2 separate regions of the Homo sapiens genome follow, and region 1 is linked to region 2. Evidence: fine-mapped expression QTL. Tissue or cell type: whole blood. Region 2 holds a variant in brackets; the other region holds the start of a gene. All regions are shown on one strand. Distances are from middle to middle.

What was found. PIP is the estimated chance that this variant, and not a neighbour inherited with it, causes the effect.
Region 1: it holds the start of MN1, and the variant in region 2 is fine-mapped to the expression of MN1 in whole blood (TOPMed, PIP above 0.99). The same link has a PIP of 0.9 or more in blood mononuclear cells and monocytes.

The regions. Positions count from the first base shown.
Region 1 is chr22:27,797,846-27,805,845 of GRCh38, forward strand. MN1 (MN1 proto-oncogene, transcriptional regulator) reads right to left here and starts at 3,911. Exons shown (of 2, transcript NM_002430.3): 1 at 1-3,911. The coding sequence starts at 2,698. RefSeq lists enhancers at 885-1,431, 1,432-1,977, 6,320-6,884, 6,885-7,448.
Region 2 is chr22:27,665,010-27,673,268 of GRCh38, forward strand. No RefSeq gene overlaps it. Among named protein-coding and RNA genes, the nearest start is that of CPMER, 46 kb to the right of the region's middle. RefSeq lists enhancers at 2,447-2,946, 4,323-4,617, 4,423-4,717. The variant C/T (reference allele first, on the strand shown) is at 4,533.

The DNA of each region.
Region 1 (8,000 bases), 130 kb after region 2:
CGCTGCTACTGGTCCCGGACGGGCCTCCGGGTCCTGGGGCCCCAGGAGCAGTCCCTCCTGGGAAGTAATCCGAGCCCGGGTTGCCGGCCACTGCCGCGCCGTCGGTCTCGTTCTGGCTCAGTTTCCTCTTGCCCTCTGGCGGGTTCTTCTTGTTGAAGGTCACGTTGAGGTTGGGGGCCCCGAGGCTGGCGATCATGTTCTGGCAAGCGGTGGAGAGCGCAGCCAGGCAGCTCTGGCCGAACAGGTTGTCCTTGGAGCTGGGCTTGTTGAAGGAGCCCAGCGAGAGCGCGCCCAATTTACTGGCCGAGGTGCGCTGGCTGGGCTGGAAATCAGGCTGCGGCGGGTAGGCACCCCCGCCACCGCCGCCACCAGAGCTGCCACCGCCCCCTCCCGCGCTGGGGGGCGAGTTCACGCCTGGACCGCTGTGCGGCGTGGACTGCCGGCCGGCTGCACCAAACGGAAAGCCCGGCTGGCCCCCGAGCGCAGACGTAGCAAAGTCCGGCGGCGGGGGCCGGCGCTCCGAAGCAGCGCTGGGGAGCCCCACGCCCGCCCCGGGCGACTGCAGCTGACCCAGGCCTCCCAGACTGCCCCCGAACTGCAGGCCCGGTGAAGGCAGCGCGGGCACGTGGCCCTCTCCGGGCATCCTCATCGGCTCCTGCAGAGGGCCCCGGAACAGCACCCCCGAGCCACCAGGCGGAGGAGGGGGCGCCAGGCTGGGGTCGTGCGGGCCACAGTCAGCGGGCAGACCCGAGCCGCCCATCCTACGGGGCAGCAGGTCTCCGGGCGGCGGATGCGGACCTGAGAACCACGCGCTCTCTTGCGCCAAGTGCGGCGCCTGCTGCTCGAAGGTGCCCAGACGCCCGGCGCCCGTGCTGCCGCCTTCGCGCTCAAAGTTCGGCTGGGCCAAGCCGCCCACCGGGCCGCCATGCACCAGGCCGCCCTGGCCCACGTCCCCGGGGTGGCCTAGCTGAGCCAGGTTGGGCTGGCGCAGCCGCTGCTGCTGATTCCGCGACGCCATCTGCTTAATCATGAGGGCCGCGTTTTGGCGCTGCTGCTGCTGCTGCTGTTGCTGTTGCTGTTGCTGCTGCTGCTGCTGCTGTTGCTGCTGCTGCTGCTGCTGCTGCTGCTGTTGCAGGGACTGGTGGTCCGGGGCCGGATGCTGCAGGGGCGGCCCCGAAGGGAAGCTGTCGGGCACAGGCGGTGTGAACTCGCCGGGTAGGCCTGGGTAGGCGGAAGGGGAGAGGTGATTATCCAGAGCGCCGTTGTGCATGCTGCCGTTCCACGAAGCGCAGCGGTCCACTCCCGCGCTGCCCGGAAAGTCGAAGCGCGGCCTCTTGGCCACGTTCATGTAGGGGGGCGCGTCGAAATGCTGCAGCCGCTGGTTGGGCGCCTGCTGCGGAGGAGGATGCTGCATGCTGAAAACAGGCTCGGAATAAGGGTGCATGCTCCGGTTCTCCAGCCGGTGGATGGGATACTCGAATTGCGCGTGCTGGCTGGGCAGCATGGGGCCTCCGTCCTGCAGGCCGCCGCTGGGCGTGCCCGCCTCGCCCTGCTGGGGCCGAGGGAGCGCAGGCGGGCACGAATTTTGTCGGACTAGAAGCCCGGGTGGCGGCGGCGGCTGCTGCTGTGGCGGCTGCTGCGGGGGCTGCTGCTGAGGGGGTGGCGGGGCCTGCTGGGGAGGCTGCATTAACGGGTGCCTGGAGCCCACTGAGGGCTCCAGACCCACAGGCATCTTTCTGGCCCCACTGAACCTCTCAAAGAACACACCATGCTGCTGCTGCTGCTGCTGGGGCTGCTGCTGCTGCTGGGGCTGCTGCTGCGGTGGCTGGGCGTGCATTTTGGACAAGCCCACCATGCCCGCAGCTCTGGGCATGGCCGAGGCGCCCGGGAAAGCGCCCCCAGGAACCTGGCGACCCGCTGCATAATGAGGCAGCTGCCCTTCGGAGTCAGAGGGCGAAAACATGTCAAAATGTCCCGAGGGCGCCTCGCCCGGGTAATTGTATTCCAGCGAGTCGACGGCTCCTTGGTTCGTCACCCTCCGTGGCTCCAGACTGTGGGAATCGGAGCCGCTGGAGGACGGCAGGCCGTGGAAGGAGGCGGCTCGGTTAGGGCTCTGGTCCAGCGGCAGGCATGGGGCCGGCACGGCGTGGCTGGAGGCACCTGAACTGTGGAAGTCCGGGAGGTTCCCCGGTCGCTGCGGGCCGAAGCTCTCAGGCCCCTGGCTCTCCGCCATGTGCTCATAGCCCTCGGCGAAGGGCGGCTGGCTGCCCAGGCCTCCGGCTGCGCCGCCGTAGCCGAGCAGGCGACCCCCGTGCAGGCACGAGGCCCCGGGGTCCGGGCCACCGAAGTTGCCCCCAAAGTGGGGGTGATGCTGGTGGGGATGATGACTTCCCGGGTGGCCGTGGTGAGGCTGCTGGCCGCCAAAGAAGCCGTGCACAGGCTGCGCTTGCAGCCCCCCTGCGTGCAACTCCGAGTGGCCGCGCGCGTGGAAGCCGTAGGGCTCCATGTTCATGCCCAAGATCGGGGGTTCGCCCAGCGCGCTCATAGCAGGATCCACAGGGCCAGGGGGCCCCCCAGTGTGGAAAGCCGGGGCCTTAAAGTGGGTGTTCATGCTCAGTCCGGTCTCGTTAAAGTTCCTCTCGCCCTGGCCAGCGTTCCTGCTGTTGACCTGGGGCTCGAATTGGTCCAGCCCAAACATACTTGGCGGGGGGCAGAGGGGGATCAATAGGGCATGACAGCCGGCTCTCCGCGGCGCGCCTCCGGCCAGCTACTCGTTCCAGCCCAGGATTGGGCGCTCCGGGACGCTCAGCACCGCGGGGGCTCAGCGCGCACCTCCACCCCGCCTGATGTGAGGGACGGGGGGCGGGGTATTAGCTCCTCTCCTGAAGCTCCGATTCTGCCCGGGGAGGGCCTCTCACATCTTGCGAGGCCGCGGGGCCTCTAGGAGCCGTGTTGGGGGGCCCATGCCCCGGGCGGTTGTCACAGCCGCGGGTGGGTCTGCGGGGAGGGGACGAAGCCGCGGATGAACGGAGACAAAAAGTTAAGTGGGGGGAATGGGGAGGGAAGGGGGTTGGGAGAGCAGAGCGATCACCTTCTCAAGTCCGATTGGGTCTGCTGGGGAGCCCTCAGGACGCCGCCCGCAGCCTCCCGGAGTCCGTGGCAGAGCTGCTAAGGGCAGGGGAGGGAGACCCTTCAAAGCCGCGGCTGGCGCCGGGCACCGACAGAGCGGTCCCTCCCCCCGCCCCCCGGAGTCCCCGCGCCCCGCAGCCCGAGCCTCCACCGAGCACGATCCGCTCGCACAATCCCCGTAGGCTCCGGGCGAGCGGCTGCTGCTTCTTCAGCGGGTCGGAGGACTGGAGGCTCCGCTCGGCATCGCCGGTGCCGGCCCCCGAGCCGAGGACGCAGAGGGGCTGCGAGGCGGCAGGCGCCGGGGGCTGGAGCCGAGGGTCGGGGAAAGGCGCGGCTCCTCTGCTCGGCAGCGGGTGCGCTGCGTTCGGCGCGCAGCTTCGCGGCCACGTCCGCCGCCTGCCGCTTCTGTTCTCCGCCGTTGGGTGTCTGAGTTCGCCGGAGTCTCCGCGCACCGTTGCAGGCGCGGGAGGGCAGCGAGACGAGGGGTTGGGTCGCTCCAAGGCTCCGGTTCCCTGCCTCCGCGCTGAGGTGCTTCGCGAGTCCCTCTCGGACCTGAGGGAGGGGGGCGTACGCGGGTCGGGGGGCCACGCCGGGCGAGCAGGCTAAGGCGTTCCCGCTGCGCTCTCAGAGCCCGGAATGGGGGGAGGGGGGCGCGGGGGCAGCTCTGGGGGGTCTGCGCACCCCTCTCCCGACTAGCGGGGGGGCTCTGCGTGGGGCGTTCCGAGGGTCTCGGCTCCCCTCTCTGTGTCTGCCTCTCGCCCAGCGCCGGGAGAAGCAGCAACAAGTTTTGCATTTCAGCAATCAATTTCAGCCATTACATTTGCACCAATCAGCGCCGCCCAAGTTCCGGGCTCGGGGCGGGGCTCGCTCTTAAGGTGGTCCGGGGTCCTGGCTGCCGAAGCCCCCGCCACGAACCCGCACTACCCCAGCTCTGGGGTCCCCTGCGCCCGCCTCTCCTCGGGGTCCGGCGTCAGTGCGCTGGGGGCGCGCCCCGGCCTCCGGGCGCATCGAGCTGGAGAGGGTGCAGGCGGAGGAGAATGGCGGGAGCTTGGCTTTGTTCACCCCCTTCCCATTCACACTGTTCCCAACTCCCCACCCCCAACTGGAGCGAGACCCACCGGGTGGGCAGGGGGCGGGGAGGTGGGCGGTGAGCGGTACGGGGCGCTCAGACAATGAGGTCGCCAGGCAAAGACCCTAGACTCGCCACGGAAAGTCGCTAAGTGTCTACTGCACTTCGGCTCCGGGGTGAACACTCCGTTCTCCGCTAGCGGCGCCCAAGTTAGCCGGCCCTGGGATTTTCTTGGAGGGTAAAGCAGACGGGGAACCTCGAAGTTAGGGTTCTCCTCGAGAGACCTGGGCGCTTGCTCACTCCTCCGTCACTAGGGCGTTCACAATTGTTCCCCTTCCCCACTGCCTGGGGTTCCCGGTTCTCACCGGCCGGCGTGGGCTCCAAGGAGTCACAGTCACTCAGCCACTTTATGGGGGAGCACATCGGTTGAGCCCAGTAACCGGAGCGACTTGCGAGGCGGCTGGGAACCCCGAGAAGACACGCACGAAGAGGGCGCACCCGCCGGGCCGCACACCTTGCCCTGGGCCACCCGGTCCAAGACCCAGACCCTCTGCGGGTGCGAAGTTGGCCTCCTTAAGAGATCAATTAAACTGAAGAGGCCGAGGAATGGAATTGGGCTGTGATACTAAAATCAATAGGAGTAATTTAATATCTGCCCTGCTCTTTATGAAATATTTATCCCAATAATCTTAGTTAAAATGTTTAGATCGTCCTGATCCCCACAGAGGCTGAAATCTATCTTGCAATTAGAAGTTGGAAGTTAGAGGTGATGGAGGATAGAGGTGTTTATTCTGTGCGCCTGTGTGCGTGTGCTCGCGCCTGCGTGCGTGTGTTTGTGCATGCGTGTGTGTGTGTGTGTGTGTTCCTCCCTAAAGTGTGTGTAGGGAAGGAGGGGGGAGAAGGCCTTTAATTTTCCTTGCCATAAAATAGCACGAGGCGATTTTGCTAGCAGATTCGCATTCTTAGGAGAAGGGCGAAAAAAGAACTTTCTTTGAAGTGCCCCTGATATCGCTATTAAATCTAAATAAAATTAAGCGTGGTGTATGAAAATGCCTTTCCCCCCCCACAAAAGAAAGTGTTTATCGCCCGAGTCTGTCTAGCGTTTGCTAAATTACGCATGAAATCTGAAATGAAATAAACGTTATAATAAAACCAACCCCTGAGCCCTTTTTATTTAAAAACCTTAGATTAAGCACTCCACCGTCGCGGGCAGGAGTTAAAAAGTTACCATGTCGTACGCGCAGATTCATTGCTCCCCTGAGTTGCGGCTAGGAAGGCAGTGCTAAGTATGCCAGAACCGACATGCCGGGGGTGGGGGGAAATGGGCTCAACTTTGGGGTAGCGGCAGAATTCCTAAGAAATTGCCCCCCGCCCAAAAAAAATTTTAATTAAAAATAAACAAACAAGAAAAAACAACAACTTTAAAACTCAGCCAGAGCAAGCTCAGATCCAAGACCTTTCCCGGGGCCTTCCTGTTGTGGAAGTTTACAGACATATATATTTTTTCTTTTTTGAAATTAAAAATGAAAATTACCCCCATCAAAAATGGGGTCCATAAATAAGCATAGGGAATAAGTATTTGTACAGGGCGGTGGAGTTTTTAAAGGATTTTTCTGCAGGATCAGGTTGTTGGTCTGTGATTAAATATTGATTTTGTGTAATTAGTTTTCATGTGAACTATCCTCTTGCTGATAGCTTAGAGGTTTCAGAACTAGAAAAGAAATGGAATTGGACATGGAAATTATTACTTAGCAAAGTGACAGGGAAGTGAGAGCCAGAGAAAAGACTGAGGCTTTGCTGATTTAGGCACAAAGAAATAAAGGCTTGGGTAGGCCCTCCAGTGACACCCCCCCCCCGCCCGCCCCGGGGCCTAGGACCCTGGGGCTCTGGGGCTCCCGAGACAGAGCAGGGGGGATCTTGAACCTCCTGGACAAAAAGCGGGAGGCAATAGGAAAACCTGGTTGTGAGGAAGAGGCCCCCACATGGGCAAAGGCCTGGGCATAGTCCAAGATACTGGGTCACACACTCAGTCTGCTCTCGACTATGGGTGTCTCCTGAGGCACCTATGAGCCGCCTGTGTTTCTGTGTCTGGAGGAAATAGGGAAAAGTGGGGACCTGTCTGGAGCCTGGGGGTGGGCCAGGAGAGTGGGAAGAATGGCTCACAGGCCTGTCGTCTGGGGAGACCCGGATGGGGGCGTCTGCAGAGCTGAGGCATGACTTCACACAGGGCTGGGTGGGGGTCTCCAGCACACCTGGGCAGGTTTCCTGTGGAATAATTCCGTGTGCTCCAGGGAGGGGGGGTGTGGGAGTATTTTTCTGGGGCTGTTTCCAAGAGTTAGCTCCACAAGGTGTGTGAGTGGCTGAAAGAAGGGAGTGTTTGGACCTGGTGAAGTTTCTGTTCAGGATGTGTGTCTCGGTCACCTTTCTTTAACACTGCAAATGTTGTGCGGGTGTGTGGCACACGTCTGCATTTTGTGCCTTTGCTTGTATGCGGGTGGCGGGGCATCTGCGTGTGTTTCTGTCCATGCCTGCGTCGGCGTTCGTGCATGGATCTTTGGGGGTCTTGGTGCATGTTCTCTGTCTGTCCCCCAACCCCGCATTTCTGTGTGTGTGAGCCACTGCGTTTGTACCTGTGTGTGTGCAGCTGCCTCACCCCTTGCATGCCTGTATCTCTGCTCCAGTGTATCTGTTTTTTCTGCGAGTGTGAGGGCGTGTGCCTCACAGCCTGTGCCCATCTGTGCCCGTGTATGCGCCGGCGTGTGCGCCTCCACAGTGTGGGCACCCCTGCGTGTGCCTGTGTGTGCTTTCGCCCGCAAGGTCCCGCAGTGTTTCTTTGGAACAGACACATTGCCCCCTAGCGCTCAGATGAATTCAAAGTCCCCGCAGGCGCAGAGCCGGGAGCAGTAGGAGCCTCAGGGCCCTCCACCCGCCAGGGCTTTCTCCATCCTCCTCCCTCCCCAGGTCCCCCTCCGGGGGCACTGAGTGTGCTGGCAACGGCCAGAGGAGGCCCTCTGGGCAAGGGAAGGAGGAGACACAGCTGGATGGGGCCCCAGAGCTGGAGAGGGATGTTTTAAGCTGGTGACAAGTGGGGAACTGCCTGGGATGGCCCCCAGAACACTCACCGCTGATATGGAGAGCCTGGCACACCTCAGCTAGCCCAGGAGCCTCAGCCTGCAGCCCACCAGTGAACTCTCACTCTATAGAAACACAAAGCAACCCACACCCAATACCCGTCACCCAGGAGACACACAGCCTTCGTGCCTGCCCCGTTGGCCCCCAACACCACCAGCACAGACACATGTACACACTTACCTCCATAGTGTGTGGCTGTGTCAGCAAACACATGCACTCACATGCACACACAGAGCAATATCAGCATACACGTACTCACACACACACACACACCCCTCCATAGTGTGTGGATGTCAGCACACACACACATATACACCTCCATAGCGTGTGGCTATGTTAGCACATACACACCCCGCCATAGTATGTGGATGTCAGCATCCATGTACTTATACACACACTCACACATACATCTCCATAGTGTGTAGCTGTCAACACACTCACACACACGTACACCTCCATAGTGTGTGGATGTCAGCACACACACACACACACACACATACACCTCCATAGTGTGTGGCTATGTCAGCACACACACACACACACACATATACACCTCCATAGCGTGTGGCTATGTCAGCACACACACACACACACACCCCTCCATAGTGTGTGGATGTCAGCATCCATGTACTCACACACACACCCCTCCATAGTGTGGGGATGTCAGCAC
Region 2 (8,259 bases):
TTAAAAATTAACTTCAGGGTTTTTTTTCTAATTTTATCAAGACAGTAAATGCATATTGTAGACAATCTGGCAATGTAGGTATTTGCCTATATTACTAGCTGTGGAACATCAGGCAAGGTGCTTCTCAAACCCTTAATGTCGTCATCTGTGAAATGGGGACAGTCCTAGTACTCACATCACAGATTCATTGTAAGGAGTAAAAGAGACTCCAAATGTATGCATCTGGCACAGAAGAAGCTTAAAATAAATGCACTAAGATGAAGACCAAAAAGAGACTTGTAGCCCAACATCAGGGACAAACCCAGACAACATCTTATAATAGATTACTCTCTTCCAGATATTTTTTTTCTGCACAGATTTAAAGAAAGAAAGAGACAGATGTAAAACAACAATTTTTCAGGTATATGGAGATCACAATGTAATTCTATTTTGTAATCTGGTTTTATTCTCATTTAACAGCCTGAACATTTGACCCACAAAATGATAATATTACCTTGAACCTATAAAGACCTTTCCATCTTTTTGTTACTTCAATGGAAATGCAAAGTTTTAGCAAACTGCCCCTCTGCTGGTTATATGTAAGAAAGTGTATTTCCCTATGTCTATAAGTCCTCTTCTAAGACCTAATTTTATGGCTGAACTGAATTTCAGCCTGTAGCTAGACCTTAATTGATTCAAGCAATGTAAGTAAAAATAAGTGGTAATAAGCAAAAACAAAACAGCAAAATAAGTAACAATGGTTATTACTAGTGTTGTAACAGCATTGGTCAGGTTGTTTGTTTCTACTGATCTGCTATAATCAATGCTGTCATGACATCCTCGTTGATAAAATCTTTGTCCATAAGAAACAAATTCTTTAGGATTTCTAAAGGAATCCATCCCCAAAACAGAGACTATGAATAAGCTTTCCAAATGTTGTTGCCCTTTGTGATATGCCCACAGAGAAGGGACCAAGACATGTTGGGCATTTTTTAAGTGTTAAGTGTTATGCTAGGCATTTGGCCCAGGCATTGAATCTCCAAGCAGTGGCTCACACCTGGAATCTCAGCACTTTGGGAGGCCAAGGCGGGAGGATTGCTTGAGGCCAGGAGTTCGAGATTAGCCTGGACCACATAGGTAGACCCCATCTCTACAAAAAATTAAAGAAAAAGTAGCCAGGCTTGGTGGCACACATCTGTAATACCAGCTACTCAGGAAGCTGAGGTGGGAGGATCACTTGAGCCCGAGAGTTTGGGGCTGCAGTGAGCTATGATTGCACCACTGAGCTCCAGCCTGAGTGACAAAATGAAATCCTGTCTCTTAAAAAAAAAAAAAAAAAGAATCTCCATAATAACCCTTTCATTTTTTGTTGTTGTTGTTGTTGCTTCAATGGATATGCAAAATTTTAGCAAACTGTTCTGCTACTTATGTGTGAGAAAGCCTATTTCCCCACACCATCACCAATACTGGGCATTATGATTTGTATCAGTCAGCTATTGCTGTGTAACAAACCATTACCAAACTCAATGGCTTAAAATAGTAAGCATTTATTATTGCTCATGCATCCACAGGTCAGTCAGCTGGTTCTTCTGATCTCAATCAGCCTACTTGTGCATCACTGGCTGATTTTGCTGATTATTACCGGGCTCTCTCAAATGTCCAGAGCTTGGCTCTACTCCACATGGTCTCTCCTCCTCCCCCAAGCTAGCCCAGGCTTGTTCCATGGCAGCAGCAGAATTTCAGGTTAGCAAATCGAAGCTGCAAGTCCCTTATGGCCGAGGTTCAGAACAGGTACAGAATCACATCATCACATCCACCACATTCTATTGGCCAAAACATGTCACATGACTGAGGCTTGATTCAAGGAGTGGGAAACAGACTCTATCTCTTGATGGGAGGAACTGCAAAGCCACATTGCAAAGGATACAGATACAGAGAAGGGAGGCAAATTAAGAACATTTTTGCAAACAATCACGTAATTTTTTAATTTTTAATTTTTTAATTCTATTTTTAAAGTTTTTACCAATTTTCTAACTTCAGAAAATGTTTTAATGTATATTATTGGATTATACCCTGCTTTCCTTCCCTCTGTTTATTGGCCACTCATCAATTGACTCTTTGCACCCGAACACTAATCTTTATATACACCCTGGCCCACACTCCGCCTGGAATTCCAGTCCATGCTCCTTCTGGAAGCCAGCCGTCACCCCCACGCTTCAGCTCCTCCTTCGCATAATGAATAGCCCAGGAGCCTGCAGGAGAGAGAGCCATGGCCGACCACCACCAGCACTTCCCCCGGGCAAGCCCCATGATGACACCATCCATCACTGCCACCCTCGGTGGCTGTGCGCCCCAGGCCCGGCCAAGGAGGAGAGAAAACACTGCCCACAGCTCAGTGGAGCCCTTAATGATTACGTCAAGTGGCAAGCCATTTATTAGTCTCCTTAGCGGCCAAAAAAAATAAGGCCTGAGAAGCCAGAAAGCACATCAGGGGACTGTGGTTTTATTTTTTATAACCGCTTCAAGCCTCAGACACCAAGGGGAATATGGGTCAGGAAGGGAGGCAAGGCTTGGGGGCTGGGGAAACAGGAGTTCTGAACCAGTCTCTGCAGAGGGACTGTGGGCACAGAGAGTTTGCACGGCCCATCCAAGGTCACACAGCTCCCAGGCCGGCGTCCTCCCTCAGGGTCATGGTGTGCCTTCCACTGCACCTGTGTTAACAGCTCCTGCATTTTACCATCAATTGCTTCGAACCCTTCTCTGGAGATTGGTGAATAACAATTAGACATGAGCAAGCATTGGAAGGGGGTGCAGAATATAGGGGGTTCTGGAATTGGAGTGAGAATACCAGGATATTTCACTTCTCTGAGCTTCAGCTTTCTCCTCTGCAGAATGGGCATGAATCAGGGCCAACTTTACGGCCATGAGATCTCTGCAGTTGCACAGAGCCCGGCGCTCAGAAAGGCTCCAAGCTGGGTTTATGTTTTGCTGTTACCGTCTTGAAATTCTTTGTGTGTGTGTGTGTGTGTGTGTGTGTGTGTGTGTGTGTGTGTGTGGCAGAGTCTTCCTCTGTTGCCCAAGCTAGAGTACAGTGGCGTGATCTCGGCTCACTGCAACTTCTGCCTCGCAGGTTCAAGTGATTCTCCTGCCTCAGCCTCCCAAGTAGCTGGGATTACAGGCATGCGCCACCACACCCAGCTAATTTTTGTATTTTTAGTAGAGACAAGGTTTCGCCATGTTGGCCAGGCTGGTCTTGAACTCCTGACCTCATGTGATCTGCCCACCTCAGCCTCCCAAAGTGCTGGGTTTACAGATGTGAGCCATCATGCCCGGCCACCATCTTGAAATTCTTAATTTCTGCACCTATCTATGTTTTGTAAGTGAAGCCCAGTGGGGCAGTGAAGCATGCAGGTGAGCAGAAGAGACTCACGGAAGAAGGGCAAACATTTCCTATTTTAGTACCTTTACTGTACATTTTTCCTGCCTTTTAAACAAGGAGGACTGCAGTTTTGTTTCACACGGCAGCCTGCAAATTTTGTTGCCACCCTAAGCATGATGATACCTCCTGGGCCAGGCTGGGCACCTCAGAGACTCTCAGAGAGTGGCTGGCCCCACCAGTCAGGGGCTCCATCTCTCCCTTTGTAGGTTCCTCTCCTCCACTGGAACCCGGGACGGTTCTCCTGGATGACACCCCTCCTCTTCCTGCCACATTTAGACAGGTTCCAAGCCCCTCCTTTCCACCTCCTTCTCGTCCCTGCCTCCATTTCTGCTCTAGTTTCATCGCCCCAGTATTGCTCACCTAGAATTCCTGCCTCCTGCCAGAACCTCCCAGCCTTTACCCTGCCCTGCCCCCACCCACTCTCTTTACAAGGCTAAGCCCTGGTTCCCCAAGCTTCCACATGGGGCCACAACACCCCACTCTGGGCTCTAGACATTCCCTACCAACCACTGGCTGGTGGTTCCCATGTTCCACATGTCCTTCATTCCCCATGCCTTCCTAACAGCTCCTGTTTATTGAGCACCTACTGTGTGCCAGGACCCATGCTAAGCATCTTGCATGAATGAACTCATTTCATCCTCATAAGACCCCTATGACATAAACACTGTGAATATCTTCAACTTACAGGTGAGGAAACAGAGGCACAGAGTAGTTGATTCACTTGCTCTAAGTCACACAGCAAGTGCCAGAGAGGGCTTGGATCCCAGCAGACTGGTACCCACACCCTTAACCATCACAGAACTTCTCCTCTGTACCTTTGTCCAAGTCAGTGCTTTCTCTAGGTATGTTCTTCCCTGATGGACTTAGTCCACTCTTCAGAGTCCAGAAATATTTGCCAAGTCAGTGAGTGACCAGATGATTTTGTCCCTCGCTTGCTGTGCAGCTTTGAGTGGGTCACTTCCCCTCTCTGGGCTTCCATTTCCTCTTGCATCCAAAGAGAGTGAGCTGAGACCCACTCAGTAGGCAAAGTGAGGCCTCAGACCCACTGGGATTGGCTGCAGCTGCTGTGAGACAGTGAGACAGAGGGAGCCGCCCCATGGGGCCCAGGTTATAT[C/T]TGGGCCATGACTAAGCGTGCCCAGCCCTAGACCATCTGTCTGTCCACATCCGTCACTGTGAGGAGGGGCCAGGGGGCCACGTCCCTTAGCTCCAGACCCACATGACACCTCCTCTCAAAAGGGCAGAGCCCGGCCTGGAGCTGGGTGGCACATGATGCCTACTCCTCCTGCACTCAACCGCCTCACCCCTGCACTGCAGGACTCACACCCTTCCTTCCTGGGCAGAAACAGCCCAGAGGAGCCTGGGCTGATCCCAGCGCACCCTCGGCCATGACCTTGGGAAAATCCTCTGTGCAGCCAGCAAGCAGATAGCCATTGTCCCACTAATCCGAATAACCGATGCCAGGCTCTGTGCAGATCATCTCCTTGAACTTGCCCATCCCCTCCTCCAGGCAGTCTGCCCAGATAGCTGCTGCCTCAGGCTGATTTAGGGACCTTCTATGGGCTCCTCCACGGCCTGTGCACGTGAGGGGAGTCCTCATATTAGATCCGTTTTACAGAGGGGCAAACTGAGACATGGAGAGGATCAGGACTAGCCCAAGATCACACAGCCCCAGGTGGTAGCCGCCTGGCCCCAGAGGCTGTGGGTTTAAATCATTGAGCATTCCTGCCTACCTGTGCCAGGCACCGAGGGGCATGGGGACAGTAGTGACCAAGGGCAAACTCAACGCCCACCCTGGTGAGGCTTCCATGAGCAAGTGCATACATTCAAGGGACCACCTGTCATTCTTGCTTGCCACATCAAAGGGCGCAGCCTGGGATCCCAGCCTCGTTCTGCCCCACCCCCTCAATGCTTGGCAAACACCCGACTGCATCACTCCTTCCAAGGTCAAGCTGTGTGGACCTTGGGCAAGTCACTTGACCTCTCTGGGCTGTCTTTTTCTTAGTCATCAATATGCCTTGCAAGTCAAATCAACCATATGACTTACTTGGCTGGAACCTCCAAACTATCCATAGAGGTTGACAGATGATCCCCATCATCCAAATGAGGAAACTGAGGCTCAGAGAGGAGGGAGCTGCTTGCCCAAAGTCAGGAAGTGCCTTAAGGGGATGGCAGAGGATGTGGGTGTCCACGGGGGCATAGGTGCTTCCTGCCCAGAGCCAGGGGGTTGGGATCAGCCAGGAGGTGATGGTAACCCCTCCCCTTCCCCAGCCTGCTTCTTTCTGCCCCTTCCCCACCTTCCCCCTTCCCCCTTCCCCCTCCTGAGGTCTCCAAACAAAGCTGCCTTTATCTGGACTGTAGCTGCATTCCTCAGTGACACATGAGGACAAAGGCGGGGGCCACCGGCAGCGACAGGAAAGCCCTACCGCCCCAAGCCAGTTTACAGCCTTCCCACGCCCCGCCCCCACCCGCAGGGCCTCCCCGGGGCCTCCAGGCCTGGCCCGGGGGAGCTCTGGGAGGAAGTTTTCCCCAGGACCCTGCCTCTCTTGCCCCACCGGAGCCTGGCTGTTTGTCCTGGGGAGGAGGCTGAGCTTCTGCAGCCTGGATCCAACCCCAGCTCCGCCCTGGGCCCCATACACACTGCGGGGCCTAGGTGAGTCTCTGAATCTCCAGGCCTCTGCTTCCTGGTCTGTAAAACAGGAGTGGATTTCCGGAGGGGCTTAGTGAGATCATGCAGGAGGCAGCTGGGCACATCGAGAAGGCCACCATGATTGTTGATGGTGGTAGTCTTATTGGTTTTCCATTTCCAGCCATTTTTGAGCCCCTTTCAGTTCCTGAGAGTGCTGCTGTCACCCCAGAGGATTGCACATGCTGTTCCCTCTGCCGGGAACACTTACCATCCCTTGCTTCCTCCCCTGGCTAACTCCTGCAGGTGTCTTCCTAAACATCCCCTCCTCCAGGCAGCCTGCCCAGATAGCTGCTGCCTCGAGCTGATTTAGGACCTTCTATGGGCTCCTCCATGGCCTGTGCATCTCCATCACACAATATCTTGAGTGAACACTGCCTGGGGATCACAGACAGTGACCAGGAGAGATGGGGAGGAGAAACAAAGGAAGTGGGGCTGGGCACCTACTGTGTGCCAGACCTGTGCTAAGCATTTCTCTCTCATCCAGGGTGTTGGGAACCCTCCCAACAACCCTCCAAAGCCAGCTTTATCATTCCATTTAAAACATAAGGAAGCTGAGGCATACGCCTGAGACTCAAGCCTAGGTCTGTTAAATTTCAGAGCCTGGACTGAACACTGCCTGCTGATAGCGGTCACCCCACCAGGCTCAAAGCCCCTTAAGGGCAAAACCAGGGTGGTTTTGTTCTCTGCTGTATACTCATTGCCTGGCACTGGGCCTGGCCTCGCTCACCCATTGCTGATGGGATGGGTTGGTGGGTGAAGTAGCAAGTGGGTGTACAGGGCCCTTTTTTTTTTCTCTTGCTAGACCAGGGAGGGAAGGAGGAAGGAAGGGAGGAAGGAAGGGAGGGAGGAAGGAAGGGAGGGAAGAAGAAAGAAAGGGAGGGAGCAGGGAGGGAGGAAGGAAGGAAGGAGGGAGGGAAGGAAGGGAGGAAGGAAGAAAGACAGGAGGAAGGGAGAGAGGAAGGGAGGGAGGGAGAGAAAGAGGGAAGGAAGGGAGGGAGGGAAGGAAGGGGAGGGGAGGGGGGAGGGGAGGGGGAGGGGAGTGGGGGTGGGTTAGGCGAGAGAAGAAGGGGCCGGGCATGGTGGCTCATGCCTGTAATCCCAGCACTTTGGGAGGCCGAGGTGGGCGGATCACGAGGTCAGGAGATCCAGACCATCCTGGCTAACAGTCTCTACTAAAAATACAAAAAATTAGCTGGGCGTGGTGGCGGGCACCTGTAGTCCCAGCTACTCGGGAGGCTGAGGCAGGAGGATGGCGTGAACTCGGGAGGCAGAGCTTGCAGTGAGCCGAGATCGCACCACTGCACCCCAGCCTGGGCAACAGAGCGAGACTCCGACTCAAAAAAAAAAAGAAATAGGGGTCTCTGAAGCCAGAGCTGGCCCCCTAATCCCACGTCATCTAGGAGTGGAGGCTGGGGCTGCAAGAACAGGATAAGGCCTTAGAGGTTCAAAAAAATAAGAAATGCAGTAGCCTCTCCCCTCCCCCACCCCACCCTGGCCCAGCTCTCCCAGAAGAATGAGCACCATTCTGACAGCCAGGGCCTCCAAACCAGATCTGCACAGTTTGGTGTCCAGATATCGCTAATGACCCACTCATCTCATTTCCATGTTTGTCCCTGGAGCACCTACTGTGAACCAGGCAGGATAGAAAGCACACAGAAAGGGGAAACTGAGTCCAGTTCTCCCAAGAGGTCACAACCTGGATCCACAGCACGAGAAAGTGTTCTTGAGATGATCTGGCCAGACCAGAGAAGGCCAGATATTTGCCCAACATTGCACAGCAAGGTCCAGAAAAGTGAGAATTGGGACCCAGGGTTCTAGTGCTCCTGGCCCAGTGCTCCCCTCTCTATAGAACATGTCCAGGGGGTAGTAGAAGGCCAGGTGACAGTGACCAGGAGAGATGAGGAGAAGGAGAAAGAAAGGAAGTGGGGCTGAGCACCTACTGTGTGCCAGACCTGTGCTAAGCATTTCTCTCTCATCCAGGGTGTTGGGAACCCTCTCAACCACCCTCCAAAGCCAGCTTTATCATTCCATTTAAAACATAAGGACGCTGAGGCATGCGCCTGAGACTCAAGCCTAGGTCCGTTAAATTCCAGAGCCGGGTCTTCTGACAAGCAGAGGTTGTCCTATGGATTTGTTCATATAGGCCCAGACCCAA